Homo sapiens: one gene and its partners. The protein of the gene in region 4 purifies or fractionates together with the protein of the main gene of each other region. This does not show direct contact. Each region holds a gene or a part of one and is shown on either strand. Other genes may lie near its edges. The genes, in order: CSNK1G3, CD226, ITGB5, EDIL3, ZBTB18 and HADHB.

Region 1 (2,738 bases), about 39 Mb from region 4:
GCCATGCAATGGTGTCTGTGTAATTATTTTGCTCTTTGATTAAAAAAAAGACCCCCAGCAATAAAAAGTGGGTCACTCTATGCCCTCTGTGCACATTAGTCTCTTGTATTCAACTTTGCTGATTCTCTGGAATTTTCCTACTCTTTAGCATAATTTTGATGATTGAAAAATATTTTGGAAAGGATGGGTCAGGTGCTTTGCCTCCATAGTCTTTTGAAGTGCCTGCATATGAACAACAACAACAACAACAAAAAATTCTGTAAAAAAGGAAGCCCATTCCACTTTTCAAGTATGCTTTGTTTTAAGCCATAAAGACACACATGTAGTTTTGTCACATTCTACTAGCCAAAATTTTCAAGAAGGGTTAAAACAAAGACTGGCTAGAAAGATAATTATTTTGAATAAATCTCATATTCATCTTTCATTTATATAATTGTTACTTATTCCTCCCATGCAGTCTCTTCGTTGTCTTTAAGTGTGTGCCTCCAGGCATGCTTATTTATTTTTATTGTCTCAAGGTAACATTTAAGATGTATATTAAAGTAAAGCTACATTTTTTTACTTCATTATTGCATTTACAGGGATTTAATTGTACTTTGTAATTTATTTTTCTTATTAGCCAAAAGTTTAATGCATTTTTTTTTGATGAATTAGGCACCCACATGAACACCACAAATCAGGACATTGTTTATCATTGTTGCTATGAATCCTATGAATGATCTTTTTTTTATTTTAAAGACCTACACTTAACCTACAAAACATTTGCTGTATAATTTGGTCAACAGTTTCTATCTATCTGTATACTGTCATGATGTCTTAAACTGCAGGAGTTACATACTGAGTTTATATTTTTATTTGCTTTGAGCAAGGTAGATAAACATTTTGGCCATTATAATGTGAAACCACTTCTTCTTTCTTTACAGTATTTGACCAAACTTGTGTGTCTATGATATTTGTAAATACATGCGAATATCTGTATTTCTTATCATAAGCCTATTTAGTTTTATTCTCAGTAGGGTTTTTTGGATTGTACAGTGTTTATATGATCTGAACTCCTTATACATAAGAAGGTGTGTATATTAATCCAATTATGGACTTAAAATATTTTAAAAGTATAAATACCCTTATTTGCTGCAAAGACCAGTGTGTAGGCATTTGCTTTTTAGCAATATTTTTAAGTGCTCCATTTTAATGCCGAGGAATAAGTCTTTTGGCAACACAAACTGGTCAATAATAGGTAATGCAGGTATGTTCAGGTTAAGCCAACAATGTTTTGCATTTTTATGCTTATTTTCTGTCAACACTAATGAAGTCAACATTGCCTGAATGTCTGAATAATGAAACACATCCCTGTTTAAAAGTATGTAACTGAAAAAGAAATAAAAAAAAATAAAAGTAGTTTTTTTAAACTTGCTCTTTCCCATTTCCTCTAAAGATGGGTAAAATAATGTCACTCCCTAATTTAAGATAGGAATTATAAAAATTTGGTTTATTTAGTCTGTTATATATGAGAAGCAGAGCTAAAGGAATATGCTTTTGTTATTTTATGTTTTGTTTTGCTTTCTTGAAATCCAGTGGTAAAAAGCACACACTAGGAAGGATCTAAGCTTTCTTTAATATAAAAAAAATTATACTTCTCTGAACTGTTTAATAGAGCAATAATTAAATACATCTTCTGATAAATTAAGGGAAATAGCATCATTTTTCCTTTTTGAGAATGGAATCATACTATTATGTTCACAGAAATTAAGCATTATTCCAGTTTTAAGTGAATGACTTTAAAATCATTGTAGATGGGGAGCCCATATTTCTAACAGTATCTCATAGTTCATCATTGTGCTAGGTGCTTTAAGGGATTTTACAAAATGGCATTAATGGTACGCTACTTACTGAGGGATGCTACAGGTAAGAAAAGGCAAAGCAGCCCTCTCTCACCCTGTGAATATTGTGTCCATTAAGCAGCAGAGACCTTCAGAAGCAGGAGAAAGATCTGGAGATGACACAAAACTGTTAAAGGCTCTATTTAGAAAAATTCGACTTTAAGATTGGGATTTCAGTCTGAATGAATGTATAGTTGCATTAGTCAGAACTCTTTGAATTGAAAGTGACAGAATTTAACCTGGCTTGAGCAATAAGAGTGTACATTATTTCATTTAACTGAAAAGTTCAGTGGTAGGACTGCCTTCAGACATGCTTAATCCTGGAGTTAAGACAGGAATCTTCTCCATATCTTTTGGTTTTGCTTTCCTACCCTGCTGTTTTCACTGTCAGGAAGACTTTCCATGTGTCATGGTAAAGTGGTCATCCAGCAGCTTGAGACTTCTACCCTACCATCTTAGTAGTCTCAGCAAAAACAAAGGGCCATTTTTCTCAATATTTCCAACAGAAGCTTAAGACTGACATTCCCTTATTGGTTGATGTGCCCACCCCTGAGCCAATTACTATGGACAAGGGAATATTGTTCTCCCAGTAGCTGAGCCTGAGTCATGGTTTGACCTTGAGGAGACACAATGGTGATGGAACTGGTTGAGAAGAGTTAAAAACTTTTTTTTCTACTAGAGTGCAAATAGAATTATAAAGATTTGCTGATATTCAGGATAACTAATTTCTTCTCTGCCCAATTCTAATACAGACCCACATAAATTATTTTCTTAGGACATTTACTTGTTCATAAGACTACATGGATCATAACCAAAGAAAGGACTATATATAGAAGAATGATCAGGTAATATTATTGG
Region 2 (4,544 bases), on a different chromosome or scaffold from region 4:
TTTCCAAAACGCGAAGTTGTGTGCACCGCTTTCTCCATCAGCTCCTCGGCGGCTCCATGTTCCTCTCAGGAATGTGTTAACGTCACAGGCGTTACTGAGAGCCTGCTTTGCCTGAGGAATTGTGCTGGGTGCTGGAGTTACAGAAGTTAGCATGACGCCGCGGTTTCTGATTGCTACGTTTCAGTTCCTTTATGTGTGTCACTCAGGTCACTTTTCAGTCCAGACTCAGTCTCATTTTCGGTCACTTCCCCACCCACTAGACTGTAGTCACACCATTTCCTGAAACACCCGCATTGTCACGCCTCTGTTTTCCCCCCACTTTTTCTATAAAACCTTTTCCACAATCTATTAGAATGATTTGTTCTCTCTGGCTTTCATAAAACTTAGCAAATGACTTGTATAGAGATGATCATGTTTTGCTACAATAAATTGCTTTTAAAATTAATATGACCCACTATATTATGCATAACCTGAGAGCAGAGATGTGTCCTCTTTATGATTGTATTTCCAAGGGACTAAGCAGAGGACCCAGCATAACTCAGTACAATTTGGAGGAATTGTTGGGTTGACTTATTTACAAAACAGAGATAACAGATGCCTCTTTTGACTACATCACAAAACAACTAGAGGCACAAATAATATCATAGATGTGAAAACTTTTAGAAAATATAATGCCATATAAACACAAGGTGACACCATGCTTGATTATATGTACACATTACAATTTTGTTCTGATTATCATTGCATTGTTGATTTTATGTTCCCTGAGAAAGTTCCCACATTAGATATTCATGCTGAGTAGTCGACACTTGCTGATACACTTTGAGACTGAGTCACAAACAAAGTTCAGGGTCGGCATTAGATAAAATTGTCTTCAGTGGTTTCTGCTCCTACTTTTCCCAATTTTTACTCATCTTCTATTTTGACAGTCTTACCAGGGTCAAATGCATTTATACAATTCCTCTTTTTGTAGGGGTATACTTTTTATACTAACATGCTGATATGTTCCTAACAAGTTCTTAAGAATTGGAACTTGTACCTAACAAGTTCTTAAGAATTGGAACTTGTATTTTATAAGAGAAAGAAGAGAGCAATGATGAACCTGAAAAATGAATCCTGTTTTGATATTGTACTATAATTATGTAAGATATGACCCCTGACAGAACCTGGGGACAGGGACCTGTCTGTACTCTCTTTGTGACTTACTGTGACTCTATAATTATTTCAAAATCAGAAGTTAAATCTCTCATAATGGTAGATCTGCATATGCCCTGGGCCAGCATACTTTTGTATCTGATGGGCTTTTGATCTGTTTTTTGGTCCTCATCAAAGCAAATGTCTGAGATCAGCAAGGAGGAAGAGGTGAAAGGAAGGCCACAGGATGGGCTGTCAGCGCTGGGCGTAGGCTCCCTCCGCCCACTTCAGCCTCTGCCTCATCTTATGCTCTCAGTGAGGACTTCTCTGCTCCATGCATGCACCACCTTTCACTTATTATTTATATTTTTACATCTTTATTTTAGTTTCTGCCTCCTCCACATAGAATGTAAGTTCTATCATGGCAATATTTTTTTTTTTTTGTATTATTGTATCCTCATTGCCTACAGCTGAGTTAGGCACAGAGAATGCATGCAGCACATGTTTGTTGAATGAATGACTCCTTGTAGAAAATGAAAGCCCGAAAATAAGCCGACTGGTTCCCCGAGAGAGAAGAAACTCAAATCTGCCCATCCTCATAAAGGAGCAAACCTGTCTTTTAAGCTAAGGCCTTTTTCCTGTGTTCATACTTCAGAAAAAGAAGACACGACTGATAACATCTGAGAGGAAGGAAACTGCATTGTGCTGGGGATCTGCATGTCACATTATAAAAAGCAATTTTTTTTTTTAATAGAACCAGCCTTTCAAACAGTTTCCAGAGATGGATTATCCTACTTTACTTTTGGCTCTTCTTCATGTATACAGAGGTAAAGATGATCTTTATATTTTCATTTAAAAGTTTTGCTCCTGTTTTTGTTTGTACAGTGTGGCATATTCAGAATTTACAGTGCTCTTTAGTTGGCTAGGATAATTTCTCACTTGTTCAGAAAAACTAAAAGTTACATTTTCCAATTATCAGCAGGACGCCTTTTTAGACAAAGGCAGAAACTGTCAGCCTTTACTGTGATCTCAATGCACTAGGTCTTCAAAAGCTTAAGATATTGATTTGGTGTTTCCATCATCAAGGCTAACAATTAATGTGATGTTGTATATTTCAGCTCTATGTGAAGAGGTGCTTTGGCATACATCAGTTCCCTTTGCCGAGAACATGTCTCTAGAATGTGTGTATCCATCAATGGGCATCTTAACACAGGTGGAGTGGTTCAAGATCGGGACCCAGCAGGATTCCATAGCCATTTTCAGCCCTACTCATGGCATGGTCATAAGGAAGCCCTATGCTGAGAGGGTTTACTTTTTGAATTCAACGATGGCTTCCAATAACATGACTCTTTTCTTTCGGAATGCCTCTGAAGATGATGTTGGCTACTATTCCTGCTCTCTTTACACTTACCCACAGGGAACTTGGCAGAAGGTGATACAGGTGGTTCAGTCAGGTAAGGGCAAGTTTTTTTTTTTTTTAAATCCCTTTTTATCCACTTACAACATTTATTTCTATAAAGCCCAAGTAGAAGCTATAGAATGTCTTCTCGTATTTCTGTGGCATTCTCCAATTCCATTTCTAGATGCTTTGATGTTACTGCTTTGAAGGAGCAATCTTGGGAGTCTGTTTCATTTTTCTGACTGTGCTGTTGTGTCCGAGTAGAAGTGCCTTTCAAATTTGAATGTAGTAGAAGAAAGCACAGGTTTTTTGTTGTCTTAATGATAACCTGAGCCTTGATTAAACTGATGTTGGCAACACATGGGTTCAGGATCCTTTCAGGGTTTTATCACAGTGACATAGCACCATTCCCTTCTGCTGGACACTCCAGCACCCACATCAACCCCTGTGTGTTCAAGGTTCTTCCTACAGTACCAAATCTAAGTTTGTTTTCTTTCTTTCTTTTTCTCTTTCTTTCTTTCTCTCTCTCTCTTTCTTTCTTTTCTTTCCTTTCTTTCCTGTCTTTCTTTCTTCTTCCTTCTTTTTTTTTTTTTTTTTTTTTTTTTTTTGATGGAGTCTTGCTCTGTCACCAGGCTGGAGTACAGTAGCATGATCTTGGCTCACTGCAACCTCCAGCTCCTGGGCTCAAGCGATTCTCCTACCTCAGCCCCGCAAGTAGCTGGGACTACAGGTGTGCACCGCCACGTGATATGGTTTGAATTCCCATGTGTTGTGGGAGGGACCTGGTGGGAGGTAATTGAATCGTGCGGGCAAGTCTTTCCCATGCTGTCCTCATGATAGTGCATAAGTCTCATGAGATCTGATGGTTTAAAAAAGAGGAGTTCCCCTGCACTAGCTCTCTCTGTTTGCCTGCTGCCATCCATGTAAGACGTGACTTCTCCTTGCCTTCCACCTTGATTGTGAGGCTTCCCCAGACATGTGGTGCTGTAAGTCCAATTAAACCTCTTTCTTTTGTAAATTGCCCAGTCTTGGGAATATCTTCATCAGCAGGGTGAAAACGGACTAATACACCATGCCAGGCTGATTGTTGTATTTTTTGTAGAGATGAGGTTTCAACATGTTGCCCAGGCTGGTCTTGGACTCCTGAGTTCAAGTGATCCAACTGCCTCGGCCTCCCAGAGTGCCAGGATTACTGGCATGAACCACCAAGCTTGGCCCTGGCTCTATCTTTCACCTCATCCAGGTTTAGCTAGAGAGGACACTTTCTTCATAAATTGTGAGCTGTGGTGTCAGAAAGAACCCAATGATCCCTTGGAGTGTTTTTTGCTTTATCTACCAGAGATTGTGGTTTTGTCTTTCTAGTGATGACTACATGAACTGGTTGTAGTATATTGGAAACACTTGGGTTTATAGTCATCACTTTCCATCAACCTGGTGTTAGTTGCTCGATCCCTCTGAATCTCAGGTTCCTGAAGAGGAAATGGGGTTGGTAGTGCCATTCTACTTGTTGAATGGCTGAGGGACGATATATTTAAAGAACTTGGTCCATGGTAGTCAGAGAATGATACATCTTATTATTTCCTATGCTTGTGATCCAAAAGGACTAATAATGAAATTTTCAGATATTAGTGACAATCTAAAGCAGGGAATATTTTTGGAACTGTGTGTTTCTTGTGTGGTGTCTCTCAAATTATACTCATGGCTGTACAGAGAAGAACATTTTATGACATCTGACATAATAGTGCTTTATTTTTAAGGGATCTGTGCTCTAAAAGAACAAGTACAGAATTATATGAGGAATATCAAATGGTCAGGAGATAAGAAACATCTTCATATATTTAGTTTTCCCTTTCTCTTTAGGTGTAGCTAGGGTGAAGACTAATTTTGTGTATATAGCTGAGGCTTATAGAGTGTCAATTTACAATGTTTCTTTAGTTAAATGTTTATTTATTAAAGACTCTGTTTCACCATACAAGTCCTCATTTGCTGTTGTATGTAGACACCTGTTAAA
Region 3 (4,051 bases), on a different chromosome or scaffold from region 4:
AAATGCCCAGTCTCAGCAAGACAGAGGAGGCATCTAACATCCACTGGGTCCTGTTCCCTACCGAGTACCAGGCCAGGGCCTTCATCTCTGTCTTCTCCTTCAATTCTCAAAATAATGCAGAAACAAATGGTGTTGGCCCATCTTAGGAGACAGGAAAAGCCAAAGTCCAAGACAACCAAGGTCACAGCCTGATGAACTGTGGAGATGAAACGTGCACACAGCATCTGACTCAAACGCCCTTGCTCCCAGGCTGCATGGACACACGCAGGCTTCTAGGGTGAAGACATACCAGAGGGTTATTTCAGGATCCTGAAGGGGAAGGAGGGATGGTTCTGTCACGTTTGCTAATATCTCTTTAAAAGAAAAACTGCTAAAAAGCCTGCCAGGCTGCTTAGAGCTTTTATTATGGCTACTAAGAGGAATGGAAACTCCATTCCACCACCCTGGAATTTTTTAGGCAAAGCCTGGGGACTGTCTGGGGGAAGGCGGGGCCCTCCTGCACATGGGGAACCAGGTGTGGCCCCCCCAGAGGGGTGTGGCACTGACTCATAGAGGAGCCAGCATTGGGTGTGTTTTCCTTTTGTGCCAGGCAAAATACTGGGTGCTTCACACACATCTCTTATTCCTCATAACAACTCTATGCCCAAGTCACACTAGCAGATATGGTATGATGGGACTTAGGCCCAGGCCTCCTGCTATGGAGCCCAAACTTTTTCTACTAACCAGACAGAACCATCTAGCTAACACCAACCTATCATCACTCTGCTGAGGAAAGCGTTGATCCCTGTTGCATGCTTGGCATGTTGAATCCTGATTTTTCCACCTACTTTACTCTGCAATGACACTGCTAAGTCCTGCACTCTCCAGGGCAACTCCAGTTTTAGACATGCTGGTCCCACGACGCCCATGGGTGTACTCACGCTTGTGTCACGGCAAGGTCCGCTCCAGGAAGCTTCCCTTGTTAACCCACGTCTGTGCAACCCTGTGTGGCAGTACAATTCCTCCTCCCATAGGACGGAGTATCTGCACGTTCCTGGTTTGCTTCAGATGCACCTTGTGCTTTCTTTCCCAGCTGATCCCTTAGTTCCTTTCAAATCCACCCATCCCAATTGGAAGACCATTCTTAAGGAGGGAGCCCTGGAAACCACAGAATACATGATGTGTAGAAGAAACCACAGCCCTGCCTAAAACTGTTTTACTTACTACCTTTACAGGTGGCATGGTGTTAGATAAACTTTGAGATACAATTTTGAAGCATTTAATCAGAACGCAATACCAGAGTGGGAACTGCCAACTTGTCATTTAACTGGAATCAGTGTAAACTCCTGTGTTTAGATTCAGAAAATTAAGGGCTCCAACACAACACACTAAAAAAGTACCTCTCCTTCTGAACCACAGTTCTAAAAAATAAAATAAATTAAAAGCCTCAAACTTTTGGTAGTGAAGTTAAAAACCAGCTCAAGAGTATACTGTGACTGTTTAACAGAACGAAAAGGTGGGCTGGGCGCAGTGGCTCACACCTGTAATCCCAGCACATTGGGAGGCTGAGGTGGGTGGATCACCTGAGGTCAGGACTTCGAGACCAGCCTGGCCAACATGGGGAAACCCCATATCTATTTAAAAAAAAAAAAATTTGCCAGGCGTGGTGGTGGGTGCTTGTAATCCCAGCCAGTCAGGAGGCTGAGACAGGAGAATCACTTGAACCCAGGAGGCACAGGTTGCAGTGAGCTGAGATTGTGCCACTGCACTCCAGCCTAGGCAACAGAGCGAGACTTCATCTCAAAAAAAAAAAGAAACAAGAAAGAAAGAGAGAGAGAGAGGAAGGGAGAAGGGAGGAGAAGGAGGAGGAGAAGGAGAAGAAGAAGAAGAAAATAAAAAAAGGTGAATGTATTGTCAGGGTGCATCCATGTAAGCAGAATGTCCAAATCACAGGAAACGCATGCTTCACTGAACCCTGGACCAAGCCCTCATCATCCAGCATGACAAGTAACGCACTTGATTATGTGAAGCATGCTTCACAAATGATAGCACCCTCGGACAAGGAAGAGACTTGGGGTGTCTAGCCTAGATCAGAAGAGAGAACAGAGAAACATAAAGCAGCTTTTAGATGTTTGACAGGTTGTCACGTGGAAGGGGGACTCTAGAATGTTAACCATTGGGAGGAAGTTATTGAGAAACAAGTTTCTCTTCAGTATAAAGAGGAATTCTGGGCCGGGCACAGTGGCTCACGTCTATAATCCCAGTACTTTGGGAGGCTGTGGATGGATCACTTGAGATCACGAGTTCAAGACCAGCCTGGCCAACATGGTGAAACCCCGTCTCTACTAAAAATACAAAAATTAGCCGAGTGTGGTGGCGGGCGCCTATAATCCCAGCTACTCGGGAGTCTGAGGCAGGAGAATTGCTTGAACCTGGGAGGCAGAGGTTGCAGTGAGTCGAGATCCTGCCATTGCACTCCAGCCTGGGCAACAGAGTGAGACTCCATCTCAGAAAAAAAAAAAAGAGGAATTCTGGCAGGAAAAATAAGAGCCCCCAGAGATGTCCACATCCTAATCCCTGGAACCTGTGACTGTGTGGCCTTACGTGGTGAAAGGGACTGTGCAGATGTGAGTAAGCTGAGGACCTGGGGATGGGGAGACTTTCCAGGGTTCGACTGAGGGTCCCTTGTAACCACAAGGGTCTGTAGGAGAGGGAGAAGGATTTGACAACAGAAGCAGAGGTCAGAGTCAGAGAGATCTGAGGATGTTACTCTGCTGGTTTTGAAAATGGAAGAAGGAGCTGCAAGCCAAAGAATACAGGTGGCCTCTAGGAACTGGAAAAGGCCGGGACACAGATTCTCCCCTGGAGCTTCTAGGAGGTATGCAGCCCTGCTGGCACCTTGATTCTAGCCAAATAAGATCCATTTCAGACTTCTGGCCTCCAGAACTGTAATGGATTAAATGTGTATTATTTTAAGCCAACAGGTTTGTGGTGAGTTATGGGAGCAGCAATAAGATATGAGTTCATTGGCTAAGGGACAGATGGCCACTGCCAGCCCCAGTGAGTTCCCCGTCCCAGGAGGCAATCAAGAAGAGGCTGAACATCTCTACCTGTCAGGAATGCTGTGCAGGCCAGTCCTGCATGAATTGGGAAGTAAGGTGGATGACCCACGCAGGCCCCTCGAATTCTGAGAGTCCACAATTTATGGCAATACCTTCTGCTTTCGTATTCTGCACACAGATCCCCACCTCCTGCCTACGGGTAGCAAGGCTTGCCCACTGTCTTCTCCAAGGAGAGCCATGGTAGTGACACTTTCTACCACCACTGAGTAAAAGGCAGGCTTTGGGAGGGTGTCCTAACGGCATCTTGGCCTGGCTCAGAGCTAAAGTGCTTGCTGGGGACACTTACCTGAGCAGAGGACTCCCTTGTTCCTGGCACAGGAGAAGTTGTCGCACTCACAGAAAGGCCCATAGATCTTGCCAAACTCGCTCTCGAAGCAGGAGCACTGGTTGCAGCTGCAGTCCCCACGCCCGCTGCACAGTGGCTTGCCCTCTGCCTCCCGGCACAGGTTCTGGTACACGCTCTGGTTCTCCCCATCCTGGCACTCGCACCTGGTGCCCAGGTAGCCGGGGCTGCACTCACACAGGCCGCAGACATAGGTCCCGCTCCCGTTGCACCTGGCGCTGTTGGGTTCCAGCCCCACGCTGCAGCCGCACGTGCAGTTGTAGGTGACCCCCACCTCCAGGCTGTCCCGGAATCCCACCGGCCGCAGGGCAAACACATGCTCCGTGTGTCTGCTGGGACAGCTTCGGGCCTCCAATGATACTTCAAAAGATGCCTGGGCAGAAGGAAGAGAAGGGATATCATGGCTGCGGCAAGCCAGGGTCTCCCATTCACCCAGGGGCAGGGCCCTTGATGAAGAGCAGCTGCGAACTCCAGCCCTCTCCACGCACTCAGGTAGAACCACCAAGATGGCCGGAGTAGGAAGAGACCTCAGAACCAGCAAGCTCCCATGCTTCATGGAGAAGAGAATGCACAGGTGAGCTCACATTTGACAGGTGAATTCTTTAAC
Region 4 (4,051 bases):
CTCCTTCCCTATTCCCTCTCTTGCTGCCACGTGAAGAAGGTCCTTGCTTCCCCTTCGGCTTCCACCATGATTGTAAATTCCTGAGGCCTCTCCAGCCATGTGGAACTGTGAGTCAATTAAATTAAACCTCCTTCCTTTATAAATTACCCAGTCTCGGGTATTTCTTTTTTTTTTTTTTCTTTTTTTCAGACGGAGTCTCTCTCTGTCACCAAGCTGAAGTGCAATGGCATGATCTCGGCTCACTGCAACTTCTGCCTCCCAGGTTCAAGCAATTCTGCTGCCTCAGCCTCCTGAGTAGCTGGGACTACAGGCACACACCACCACGCCCAGCTATTTTTTGTATTTTTAGTAGAGAAAGGGTTTCATCATGTTGGCCAGGATGGTCTCGATCTCTTGACCTCGTGACCCGCCCACTTCAGTCTCCCAAAGTGCTGGGATTACAGGCATGTGCCACTGCGCCCAGCCTTCGAGTATTTCTTTATAGCAGTGTGAAAATGGAATAATACAGCATAATTCTCATTGTTTTGTAAAATACTTAAAATGATTGCAGTTTGAAGTTTTTTTAAAAAAATAAACCATATTTTGGTTGAATAATTCTTCACATAAACCAGAAAAAAAAATATTCTAATTGATGTGGTTTGAGATTATTTGGTGCTTTTGTTTGGCTAAAACTTCTTAATGGGGTTATGTGGAAATAAAATTAAATGAGGATGAGATGTAAGGCAAATTAAATATCTTCATTACACTAGGAGAAATAAAAACCTTGTTAACCTCTAAAGTCACTTTGTACTACCTGATGTATCTGAAAATTACAGAGAAAGCATGCTTCTACACATCACATTGAATAGCAATGAAACAATGTAGAGGAGCAATGAAATCCTAGAAAATTAAAATAAATCAAAAAATTGTGCTGAAATCAAACTAAATGGCAAGATTTAAAGAAAATGTATTTCAAACCACTTCCCAAGTGCTCATCTTCTTACCAGTGATGCATTCTAACACATTAACACTTTCTGACCAAATGAATGAGCATACTCTTTTATTTCTGAATGTGAAAAAAGAACTTTACACTTTACCAACCTAAATTTGAAATTTTTAAATTATTGTCCCAAGAGAATAAGTATAATTTAATCCTTCTAAAATAATTACTAGTGAAATAATGGTTAGACATAATGTGTGTTTTACAAATAATAAAATCATTTAACAAAATATCTCCATGATATACAAGATGTGTCACTCACTGAGACAGAGCATCGCCTAATAGTTAAGAGGACAAGCTCTAGATCCTAATTTTAACATGCTACTTAGTAGCTCTATGATCTCTATATCTCCATTTTCTCATTTATATTTCAATAATAATAGCACCTGCCTCAATAGTTTTGAGAATTAAAGATGATAATTAGAACAGTGGAACACATAGTATGCAGTCAATACATGTTAGACTTGAAAGATATTAGAAAGAATGTACCTTGTTAACTTATCTAAGACTCTTAATGCTGACATGATGGTGGTCCCTAAGTAATGAAAAGAAAGCAAAAAAAATAAAAACACAAAATGATGCCTGAAAAATTACTGTTTCTAGGCCAAAATCAAATTTAGTCAGAAATGTCAGAACCTTGCACCTAAAAAAGGGAAAAATCACTTAGAAGCAGCTTTTCTTTTAATTGAAGGTTCATAACAAACACAGTTAAGTACTTTATATCCTGCCTGCACTTGAATATTATATTATCAACAGTGCTCTTGCAGGAGTGTTGAGAAATATTTTCAAAGTAGGCTCATTCTACAACACACATTATAAGGAATAGTTATGTAAGAAAGTGAAAAACACAGCTTTTAAAGTTCCTGAAACTACTTTGACCTATTTTTATATATAAGAGACACACTGCTGTTTAAAATGTGCAAGTACGTTTACAGGCAAACTGATGGGGGTGGGTAGCTACATTCAATTCAGTATATATTAAGTGTCTGTTTGGGTCTTCTTGTTTGTTTTGCCTGGTACTATTCTAAGCCCTAGCTCAGTAGAAAGCACAAAACATGAAACAAGAACTTGGTATATAAACATTAAAGCACTGCGAATGGTAATTTGGTTTTTGTTTGTCTGTAAACAACATTCCAGAAAAGTTAGCGTTTATAATACAGAAGTTAAACTATAGAAAGATAAATAAACAGAAAAAATAGCATAGTTAAAATTAAAGTTCATATAGTATTTGGAAAGAAAATGTGATAAAGAGTGCAGCAGAGGCCGGGCGCGGTGGCTCACGCCTGTAATCCCAGCACTTTGGGAGGCCAAGGCGGGTGGATCACGAGGTCAGGAGATTGAGACCACCCTGGCTAACACGGTGAAACCCCGTCTCTACTAAAAATACAGAAAAATTAGCCGAGCCTGTAGTCCCAGCTATTCAGGAGGCTGAGGCAGGAGAATGGTGTGAACCCGGGAGGCGGAGCTTGCAGTGAGTTGAGATCGCGCCACTGCACTGCAGCCTGGGTAGCGAGACTCCGTCTCAAAAAAAAAAAAAAAAAAAGAGTGAAGCAGAGATGTGAGCACAGACCTAAGGCTCAGGCCTGTAGGTGGGAGACTGCTCTACATTACAGAGAGGGATCTGTCCATTTATTTCAAATAAAAAATATTCTCCAATGTTTCCACTCAATTGTTTTGGACTTTCCTGATTGTGTCATGAGCCCATTTCATCCTGGCTGACCTCAAATAATCCCCAGAATCAGTAAAATCTAAATGGTTCCCCTGACCTAAAATACAAGAGGGGATTTAAAGGATTATTTTGCATTCCCAAAATATACCACTTTGTTAAATACCAAGCACAAACCTTAAGGAATGCATGGTGGCCTAACCCCATTTAGAGATTATCATCTTCAAATCAAGCATATATCATCTAACAAGAGATTAAAACCTTGGTCTTCCCATTTATGAAATATTATATCATATTAAATTATTTTAAGAGATCAATCATTTTGATACAAACCTGTTTTGGAAAAGATAAAAGGCAAAGCTAAGTCAATCTTCTTTCTCCATAGTAACAACCACATTCAAAAGTGCTTTAGTGCTTAAAAAGCCGTCACCTAAATTCTTGTACTTAAATCCTCCATTCTAAGTCACACACTATAAATCTGAACAATTCCTACACAGTTACTATCACTATAATAATGCATATTTTAAAACAAAATAGCAGCACATTTTCTAAAATATAACCAAATAATTGCAGGACATTTTATCTACATTGTAAGGTCTACTTCTTTTTTACAAAATTCAGTTTTGTGTCTTCTAAAACTTTATTACCTTAGAAGAAAAATAATTTTAAAATACCAACATTTTATTTGACACAACGGGAAAAGTCTTAAATAAGTACATTGTTCAGATATCTAGCTATTTCACCATTAAGCAGGTTTTCAAGCTTAAACATTTTTGACCAAGTCTTTTTTTAAATAATGTATACATTTCACTGCATTTGCACCCAAAAAATGTTGAACATCTTGCAGTGAGGCTTTCTCTAGGTCGCAAAACCAGCATTATCACCAGTTATTGCATTCTCTTATATGGTGATACACTTACCACTCCCCACCCCAAACCCTCCCAACTGCATGTACCCAGTTTTTTGTACTGCAAAGTATCACTGCTTTTACATATACTATTCGAGTCTCCTCTTTGTCTAAAAGTTGGCATGTTTTACTGCTCTGATTAAGCCTGACCTATTACTTCATATGCTTTTCACTTTCTGGATTCAGTTTATAGAGGACCCAGAAACTTGAAAGCCAAGAGAAATAAGCTTTTCTATGATACATGATCTAAGACCTAACTATGACATCTATTTTTGTGGTCAGAAGTTTCTGATTCTTTATCCTAGGTTCTCAGCTATGTGGTATGTGGATGAAGCTTCAAGGCAAGTGGCTTCTCCACAAGTGAAGTGGATATAAATTACTGTATACTTGATAGCTTTAGGCAGGACAGTGTGATCAAATCAAGGTGTAAAATCCTGAGTTGCTCCATGATTTAGATCCCAATTTATTTCCACTTATGTTTTAAACTTCAGGTTTGGTA
Region 5 (4,245 bases), on a different chromosome or scaffold from region 4:
AAAAAAAGGCAGGGGGATGGAAATTAGGATTCCAAATTATGTTATTATACTTCATGACAAAATCCCTGTGGCTTCCTATCCAAAGCCACCAGGTAGTTGGTAAATGGTCCATTTTCAAACTTCAGACCTTATATCCCACTTCTGTAGGTTAAAAATATTGACCTTACTATAGGCCACTGAATATAAACATAGTTTGACAGTAATAATGTAAAATTTCATAGTCATATTTCTATTTAAGGTTGGAAGTTAGAGACAAGCACGGTTTACAAAACCTCTCCATGCCTGCACCTGACTGCTTGAGCTTAGGGTTGTTTGTGACAATTCCTCTACAGTATCATCCGCATGTGTGAGTGTTCTGTCAATTCCCTACCCAGGTCAACCAGCAATGTTTCTCACCCTGACATGTACCCAACTAGATAAGCATGAAGTTGGGACAATCATAAAAAGTAGGGAACAGAGTTCTTTTAATGGTCCATGTATTTAATTACATGTTTAAATTAAAACTTGAGAATTAAAACCTAGAAACTTTCGAGTTCTCCCAGCAACAAAAAGGATGTATATAGCTAATCGTGAACAATTGCATGCCTGCTAATTCAATTGCCTAGAATTCCAGTCATTAGCCAAGCAGTCTTCCAAATTAAAACATCCGGTCTCCTTCAATTTTCCACTTAAACCAGAACACAGGAGAATAGATTTGACCGATCAACTTAGGATAAAATTACACACGAAAAGTGACTTACGGTATATGGATTAGTAGTTGTACAGTGTATTTTTAACAACCTATGCTGCCACGTAGTTTCATGATTCATGAGTTTCTAGGGAATTACCTCAACATTCTTGATGTAGATTGTGAAAATGGGTCGCATTTTTTAAATGTGCATTTAGTATCTTCTTAAGTGACTAGAATGCTTACACATTTTCCACTCGAGTGATTTAAGGCATTCTAATAATTTCATAAACTCCGAATAGAATTGATATTAAAGATGCCAGGTATGATACATATTTAGAATCTATACACTACATAATCACAATAAAAAATACACACAAGAAATTCTCAGTTCATATAATTTATTGCAGTTAGCACACAGTTTAAAAATTCACCAACACACCAATAGTACAAAACTAAACAGCATTATAAGTTATTCCCCCTCAGGAAAATAAAACATACTATGATTGTCAAAGCTAGATGTCAGTCTAAGTTTTAGAACAAAGGAAGAATGTGAAACTAAGAAAAGGAAAAAGCAATCACTCACAATGACCACAAAAAGAAAATCCAAAAGAAAGTCCGTTTTCTCACAGACATTGATTGTCTTCTCTAAATTAATAAAAATTATTTTAACATAAACTGTATTTTAAAAAAACTAGAAACTCTTCAAGTAACTAAAGATAATGCTCCAAGGCCATTTTCACAGCTTTTTTTGTTTGTTTGTTTGCTTTAAATGCCATTACAGCCAAATTAACACACATTTAACCAAATATTTCCAAAACAGTCCAGCAACACACAATGGAGTTTTCCATTCAGTATCTTAAGCACAAAAATAGGCTATGTTTACAGTAGTTAAGGCGATCAAATTTTAAACAAAAGCAATTAAAAAAAAAAGGGAAAAACAGCAAACGTTTTCCATGCTACTCCCATAGACCTTATTTGTAAGTGCAAGACAGGAAAACAAACACTGTGCAAAATGCTTTTGCCTTGCGTGCTGGTCATTAAAACCACACGTTAGGCTGCAGCCTCTGCTGCCGCAATCCACATAGTCTACTAACCCCCTTCCCCATGTCAATCAAGGCAGTCCAGTCCTTTCAGCCTGGGGCTTTTTCAGTCCATAGAATCTTTTCATGAGTTGGGGGTGGAGGGTGGTGGTGGGGGGGGAGAGTAAGGGAGGGAGGGTAAGGAGGAAGGGGAGAAAAAGAAAAAGGGAGCAAACAAAAAAAAAGAGAGAACGACCTATTGTCAACTTGTGCAGTAGTTATTCTAAGAACGCTCAACTGGGTAAATGTGTACACCTAAACTCTGAGCTGGCATGGGTTTTGTGCAATTAGAAGTTTGTTATAAATGCACACTGCACATGCAAATCTTTAAGCTGTTTGTAAACATTTATATTTTCCTTGTTATGTAGCGAAGTTATCAATTTGCAGCTTAAGTTTTTATTCAGCTTAACAGTTTCAACTTAAAGACAGTGGGAAAGTCAATTTAAATTATATAAAATAAAAATAAAAACAGTGCATTTACGTTCTTCATAACACCAGTTTTTTTTTCCAAATGGTGTTATTTTTCTAAGGAAATTAAATAATTTTAAACTCACTCGTTAAAGTTATACAATGCAAACAAAGACAAAAAATATATTGAAACTCATGCATTTCTGTAGCGTTAATATTTACTTTTCAAGACTCAACTAAGAGCATCAACACAACCTGTCAAGTTCTTTGACACCCCCCCAGCCCATGTAATCAATTACAGTATACAATAACAGTAATTCACATTTTTAAACACACAGTTCAACACTGCTGAAGCTGCAATATCCTTTTTCATCCCAAGCAAACCTTCATAAGACAGTGTCCCAGTGATCCCAGTGTACTTTCAGCATTTCTCTCACTGGGAACTGTCAGAAAACCAGAAGTTGCCACAGAAAGTTTTAAGTCAACTGCTTGTTTAAAAATAGATAATCCAGCATTTCAGAAATTTTCCATTTGGGTCTAAAAGCATTCAGGTTTCCAACAGCCAGAAAAAATTCATGCAATTTGAGACATATAAAGAGGCTAATAAAACTGGAGGGAATTTCTACTTAAAAAAAAAAACAAAAAACAAAAAAACTTTGTTGGGGGGGAAAAAAGAGCTCAAAAGACAATGCAGTGTTGACAAAATTAAGCCATATGAAAGCATTTTGTGACAGGACGATTTGTTTAAAAGGTTCTTATTGGCTTACTTCCCCTATCCCCTCAAAGGAAAAACACCTCTCTATTCTGACTTGCTCTAAAGTTTCTTTTATCAGAATGCTAAATTAGTGAGATTCTCATGCTATTCTAAAGTGCAAAAACAAGTTAATATCCCAACTTTTTATTTCCAGGAAACAAGACTGCTTTTAGACCGTACCACAACTATATAGAGATCTATTTATATATATGTATATATATATATATTATTTATATATATATAAAATTATTTCCAAAGTTCTTGAGAGCTATCTTCTAAGGTCCAGTCTCTGACAGTAGGCAAGCTCAGTGCTTCGCTTTTGACCGACAAGGAGTTCACCAACTCACAGTGGAACTTGCGAATGTGTCTGTACAGGTCCCCGGACTGCGTGAACCTGCGCTCGCACCACTTGCAGGCGTGCGGCTTCTCGCGGGTGTGCACCACGGCATGGCGGCTCAGGTTGTGCGAGTACTGGAAGCTCTTGCCGCACTGGGTGCATGTGTAGGGCTTCTCCCCCGAGTGAGTCCTCTCGTGGCGCTTGAGGGTGTACATGCAAGAGAAAGTCTTCCCACACAGCGAGCACGTGGGCACGTTGACATCGGCGGCGGGCTTGCTGCGGATGCCGTCCTGCTCGCGGAAGTGCGTGCTCAGGTGGATCTGCAGGATGTGGGGGCTGGGGAAGACCTTGTTGCACAGGGGGCACATGAAGATCTGGCCCGCGGGGCTCAGGATGTTGGAGACGTAGGGGAGCAGACTGCTCTCCATGCCTCCCTCCACCTGGACACGCTCGCTCTCTGGGGTCATCATCTCATCATCACTGGCTTTGTCCTCCCGGTCCAGCTCCCTCAAGACCGAGTCCTCCCTCAGGGGAGCCAGATGGGCCGGCTCATACTGTACCCTGTTATTAGTGCTCACACTTTCTTTCACAGTGCTATGTTCCATGTCATAGTCATTAGTGCCAACATCACTCTCATCACAGGAAGCCTCTTTCTCCACCTTCACCTGCACCAGGTTGCTTCTCAGCACGTCCTGTGAAGAGAAATAAGAGCTGTTCAGATTTTCAACTCCTGAAAGGCTGGACTTGACAGACAGGTCCAGCACACAGTCAACATCTGCCGAATCCCTCACGGAGGTGACAGACCTCTGGGACAAAGACTCTGTTGAGCTGCAGGGGCTGGCTACTGTTTTTCCAGCTGCTGTGGCGTGTGGCTCTGCCTCTCCGCCAGCCTGGGGGATGCCTGCTGAGTCTGAGGGCAATCGCATCCACATGTTCCCAGGCTCGGCCGCCAAGTCCCTTTTGCTGGGCAGGATGTTCAATTTTTCATCTTCTCCTT
Region 6 (4,051 bases), on a different chromosome or scaffold from region 4:
TATTAACTAGTTCCTAATCACTTCTATTTCAGGAATGGGCCCTCTTGCACATGGGAGAAGAAGATATTCATCAATAGAGAAGCATTTCACAAATTGCAAATTTAAAGTTAACTTTTGGTTCCATAGCAGGTCTCAAGAGCATTTGTATGCCATTCACCTCCAGGACGGACAGCAAGAGGATAAATAAACTGACCAACGAGGTTTATGGAACCTCCATGACTCCAGCAGGTTCAAATCCCAGAAAACAGCCTCCCATTAACATCCTCAAGCCTAATCCTAAATAATGTAGTATCATTATTGATTGGACCTATAATTTTTTAATTTGAAGGCAACAGAGATGTTCATGTGCTCATAAAAAGGGGAGAATTAGCAAATTAGTTTTGGTTTTTATTCAGAGTTCACAAACTATAGAATCTGGAATCTAACATTTAAATCAGAAATATTTATTTTACAAATTACTGTACCTGGGGCAGCTCGTAGCTGGGAGGAACAGCTCAGAGGTCTTATGGCTGGAAGACAAAATAAACTGTTTACAAAAAGCAATACCATTCAGTATCTGTGCGAGATGTTTATAAATCCAAATCCAATCTCTAAAAATAAAAAAATAATAATAAACTTACAAAATCTGAGGGCCCATTTTGATGCAGTGGGAAGATTTTTAAAGGGGTAAGTCAAGATAGTCATTCTGGAATCTAAAAAGAGAAGAACAAAAGTATATCCTGGATTAGCTGAACAATTTGTAGTTTACATTGTAGTCTATGAACTCTGATAACCTCATCCATGGCTACTAGAAAACATTAAAACTTAATCTTATCAACTATTCTTCATCTAATAATATTATTATGATAGGAACACCAACATGGTTTTCACATTGCAGCAACCACTATTCTAAGCATTAACCATCTAATCTTCACAATGACCTACAAAGGAGGCATGATTATTACATCCTTTGTAAGAGATAAGGAAATTGAGGCATAGTAGGATTGAGTGACTTGCCAAAAGACCTACAACTAGTGAGTGGCAGAGCTGGAATTTTTATTTATTTATTTATTTATTTATTTATTTATTTATTTATTTATTTTTTTGAGATGGAGTTTTGCTCTTGTTGCCCAGGCTGGAGTACAGTGGTGCAATCTCGGTTCACTGCAATCTTTGCCTCCCAGGTTCAGTCGATTCTCCTGCCTCAGCCTCCCGAGTAGCTGGGATTACAGGCACGTGCCACCACACCCGGCTAATTTTTTGTATTTTTAGTAGACATGGGGTTTTGCCATGTTGGCCAGGCTGGTGTCGAACTCCTGACCTCAGGTGATCCATCGCCTTGGCCTCCCAAAGTGCTGGGATTACAGGCGTGAGCTACCGCACCAGGCCCAGAGCTGGAATTTGAACCTAGGAAGTCTACCTCTAGAGTGTGTGCTCCTCTCCTTTAGGGTCAAAGAAGCAGAGAGACTGCTAGGCGTGATAATAAAACCATTAGTATTAGTTTCACGATTCTGAAGGCTGTACTATGATTATGTAGAAGGCTTTGTGGAATGTTTGTATCTGAAGGGAATATACACTAAATAGGGATGGTGAAGCATCATGTCAGCAACTTAATCTCAACTGCTACTAAAAAAAGTTTGTAGTACTGCACTTGCAACTTTTTCAAAGTTTGATACTGTATTGTTTCAAAACAATAAAAAAGTAAAACATATAATAACCCTATATGTTAAAAAATATGTAAAATATATTAACAACTTTCCCCCACCCCTCCAAAAAAGACTAAATTTCTAACAATGAGTTCCTACAGATTACTAAGGAAAACACTAGCAGACAAATAGGCACAGAATATGAACAGACCACAGAAAAGGAAATACAAATGGTTCTTAAGTATATGAAAAGATGTTCAATTTCACTCATAAGAAGAATTCAAATTAAAACCACAGATATAATTGTCTCTCAAAGTAGCAAAGATTCAAAGGTTTGATATATACTCTGTGTAGGTAAGAGTATGTGCAAATAGATATTCTCATATACTGCTGCCAAGAGAACTGGCACAGTCCATGGGGAGGGCAATTTGGTAATTATCCATGAAAACTATAACTGAAACTAATGTTTGAACCAGCAATTCCACTTCCATGAACTGACTTCATGGATATTACTCACACACAGGACATAATCCATATTGTTACTGTAATAGTCAAAAATTAGAATAACCAAAAAATAGGAAAATGGGTAAGTAAACCATGCTACAACACCCCTGTGAAATACTATGCAGCTGTAAAAGGTAAGGAAATGATTATGCACCAATTCGGAACCATTTTAAGCTGTATCATTAAGTGAAGAAAGCAAGGTGCAAAATAGCTGTACAGCATGCTATCATTCATGTTAAAAGAGGAAAAATATTATGTACATTTCCTTGTATCAGTATAAAATCCCCCTGGAAGTATAATAAAGATGTTAAAAATAATTGTTGGCTGGAAGAAAGGGAACTGGGTAACTAGGGGTCAGGGGTGGAAGACTTGTCATCACACACCTTTTATAATTTCTTAATTTTGAAGCATGTTTTAACAACAACAACAAAAAATCAAAACCAAAAAAATCCCACAAGATTTACCAACAAAGACTTTGGTAGCCAGCCTCCAAGTTGCCCCCCAATAATCTCTACCTCTTGGTATTCACATCCTTGTCTAGCTGCCTCCCTCTCCATATCACAGAATGTATAAACCAAAAAGTATGTTACAAGTAATGGTATGCCACTTCTGAGATAGGCTATAAGAGATACTGCAGCATCTGTCGTGGTCTCTCTCTCAGCTCACCCACTATGAGAGAAGCCAGGTGGCATGTCCTGAGCAGCCTTATGAAGAGGCTCCTGTGGTGAGGAACTGATGCCTCTTGCCAACAGCCATGTGAGTGAGCTTGGAAGCGGAGCCTCTAGCGCAGGCAAGCTTTCAGCTGACTCCAGCCCTGCCAACATTCTGACAGCCACCTTATGGGAAACTCAGAGCAACCCAGCTAAAGTGCCCTTGATTCCTGACCTTCAGAAACTATGAGATGGTAAACATGTATTGTTTTAAACTGCTACATTTGGCGGTAATTGGCTACACAGAAATAGATAATACAAAAGCTTTAAGGTTTAACTTCTCTTGGGTCTTTAGAGACTAAAAGAAGGAGGTCCTATAGCTTCCGAAAAGAAAAAAACAAAACATGTTCCAAACATGTGGATTGGAAAGAGATGGAGAAGCCCAAGCTTTAGGATCACCAGCCTAGGGATATTCAAAGGACTCTGGCCAGAGAAACACAAAGAGGCCCATGAGAGAGGCACCACTCAGAAGCTACTTACAATGCCACAAGGGTCTGGGCTACAAGTTCCCTTACGTAAGGTTCATCTTGAAATAAAATTCATGAAAATTGTCAAGAAAATGTTGAAAAACAAAAGGGGGAACCTTGTTGCAACAGATAACAAAACTTTCTAGGCCAGGCACAGAGGCTCACACCTGTAATCCCAGCACTTTGGGAGGCCGAGGTGGGAGGATCACTTGAGCCCAGGAGTTTGAGACCAGCCTGGGCAACCTAGTGAGACCCTGTCTTTACAAAAAATACAAAAAACTAGCTGGGCATGGTGGCATGTGCCTGTAGTCGCAGCTACTCAAGAGGCTGAGGTGGGAGGAGCACCCGAGCCAGGAGTTCGAGGCTGCAGTGAGCCATGATCACGCTACTGTACTCAAGCCTGGGCAACAGAGTAAGATCCTGTCTCAAAAAAAAACAAACAAAACACTTTCTAGAAAGAACCAATAATTAAAACAGAGCAGCTTTAGCACAGGAATAAACGACACTGATCAACAAAACAGGATGTAGCAGTTCAGAAGCAGACCCATGTATGTAAGAATTTAGTGTATAATAAATATAACACTTGAGTTAGCTGAGAGAAAGAAATTATTCCATGAATTCACTGGGAAAATGGCTAAACATTTGGAAAAAATTTTAGGTTCGCAGCTCACAGCGAAAGCACAAATAAATGCCAGACAGATTAAATATTTAAATGTATATATTTTAAATATATATATTCTAACTA

The links.
Region 1: the proteins of EDIL3 (region 4) and CSNK1G3 purify together in Homo sapiens (affinity purification with mass spectrometry; one large-scale study listed by BioGRID and IntAct). This does not show direct contact.
Region 2: the proteins of EDIL3 (region 4) and CD226 purify together in Homo sapiens (co-immunoprecipitation; one large-scale study listed by IntAct). This does not show direct contact.
Region 3: the proteins of EDIL3 (region 4) and ITGB5 purify together in Homo sapiens (affinity purification with mass spectrometry; 3 studies listed by BioGRID and IntAct, with this or other methods). This does not show direct contact.
Region 5: the proteins of EDIL3 (region 4) and ZBTB18 purify together in Homo sapiens (co-immunoprecipitation; one large-scale study listed by IntAct). This does not show direct contact.
Region 6: the proteins of EDIL3 (region 4) and HADHB fractionate together in Homo sapiens (co-fractionation; one large-scale study listed by BioGRID). This does not show direct contact.

The regions. Positions count from the first base shown.
Region 1 is NC_000005.10:123,615,363-123,618,100, forward strand, and holds the end of CSNK1G3 (casein kinase I isoform gamma-3), read left to right. Parts: 3' UTR 1-1,687; downstream 1,688-2,738. UniProt on the Homo sapiens protein: Serine/threonine-protein kinase. Casein kinases are operationally defined by their preferential utilization of acidic proteins such as caseins as substrates. It can phosphorylate a large number of proteins. Participates in Wnt signaling.
Region 2 is NC_000018.10:69,944,778-69,949,321, reverse strand, and holds the start of CD226 (CD226 antigen isoform a precursor), read left to right. Parts: upstream 1-1,448; 5' UTR 1,449-1,915; coding exon 1,916-1,961; intron 1,962-2,252; coding exon 2,253-2,588; intron 2,589-4,544.
Region 3 is NC_000003.12:124,793,001-124,797,051, forward strand, and holds part of ITGB5 (integrin beta-5 isoform a precursor), read right to left. Parts: intron 3,818-4,051; coding exon 3,388-3,817; intron 3,376-3,387; exon of another isoform or gene 921-3,375; intron 273-920; exon of another isoform or gene 1-272.
Region 4 is NC_000005.10:84,374,805-84,378,855, forward strand, and holds part of EDIL3 (EGF-like repeat and discoidin I-like domain-containing protein 3 isoform 1 precursor), read right to left. Parts: intron 1-4,051. UniProt on the Homo sapiens protein: Promotes adhesion of endothelial cells through interaction with the alpha-v/beta-3 integrin receptor. Inhibits formation of vascular-like structures. May be involved in regulation of vascular morphogenesis of remodeling in embryonic development.
Region 5 is NC_000001.11:244,054,283-244,058,527, reverse strand, and holds the end of ZBTB18 (zinc finger and BTB domain-containing protein 18), read right to left. Parts: coding exon 3,158-4,245; 3' UTR 1,052-3,157; downstream 1-1,051.
Region 6 is NC_000002.12:26,250,888-26,254,938, reverse strand, and holds part of HADHB (trifunctional enzyme subunit beta, mitochondrial isoform 1 precursor), read right to left. Parts: intron 693-4,051; 5' UTR 685-692; coding exon 621-684; intron 510-620; coding exon 465-509; intron 1-464. UniProt on the Homo sapiens protein: Mitochondrial trifunctional enzyme catalyzes the last three of the four reactions of the mitochondrial beta-oxidation pathway.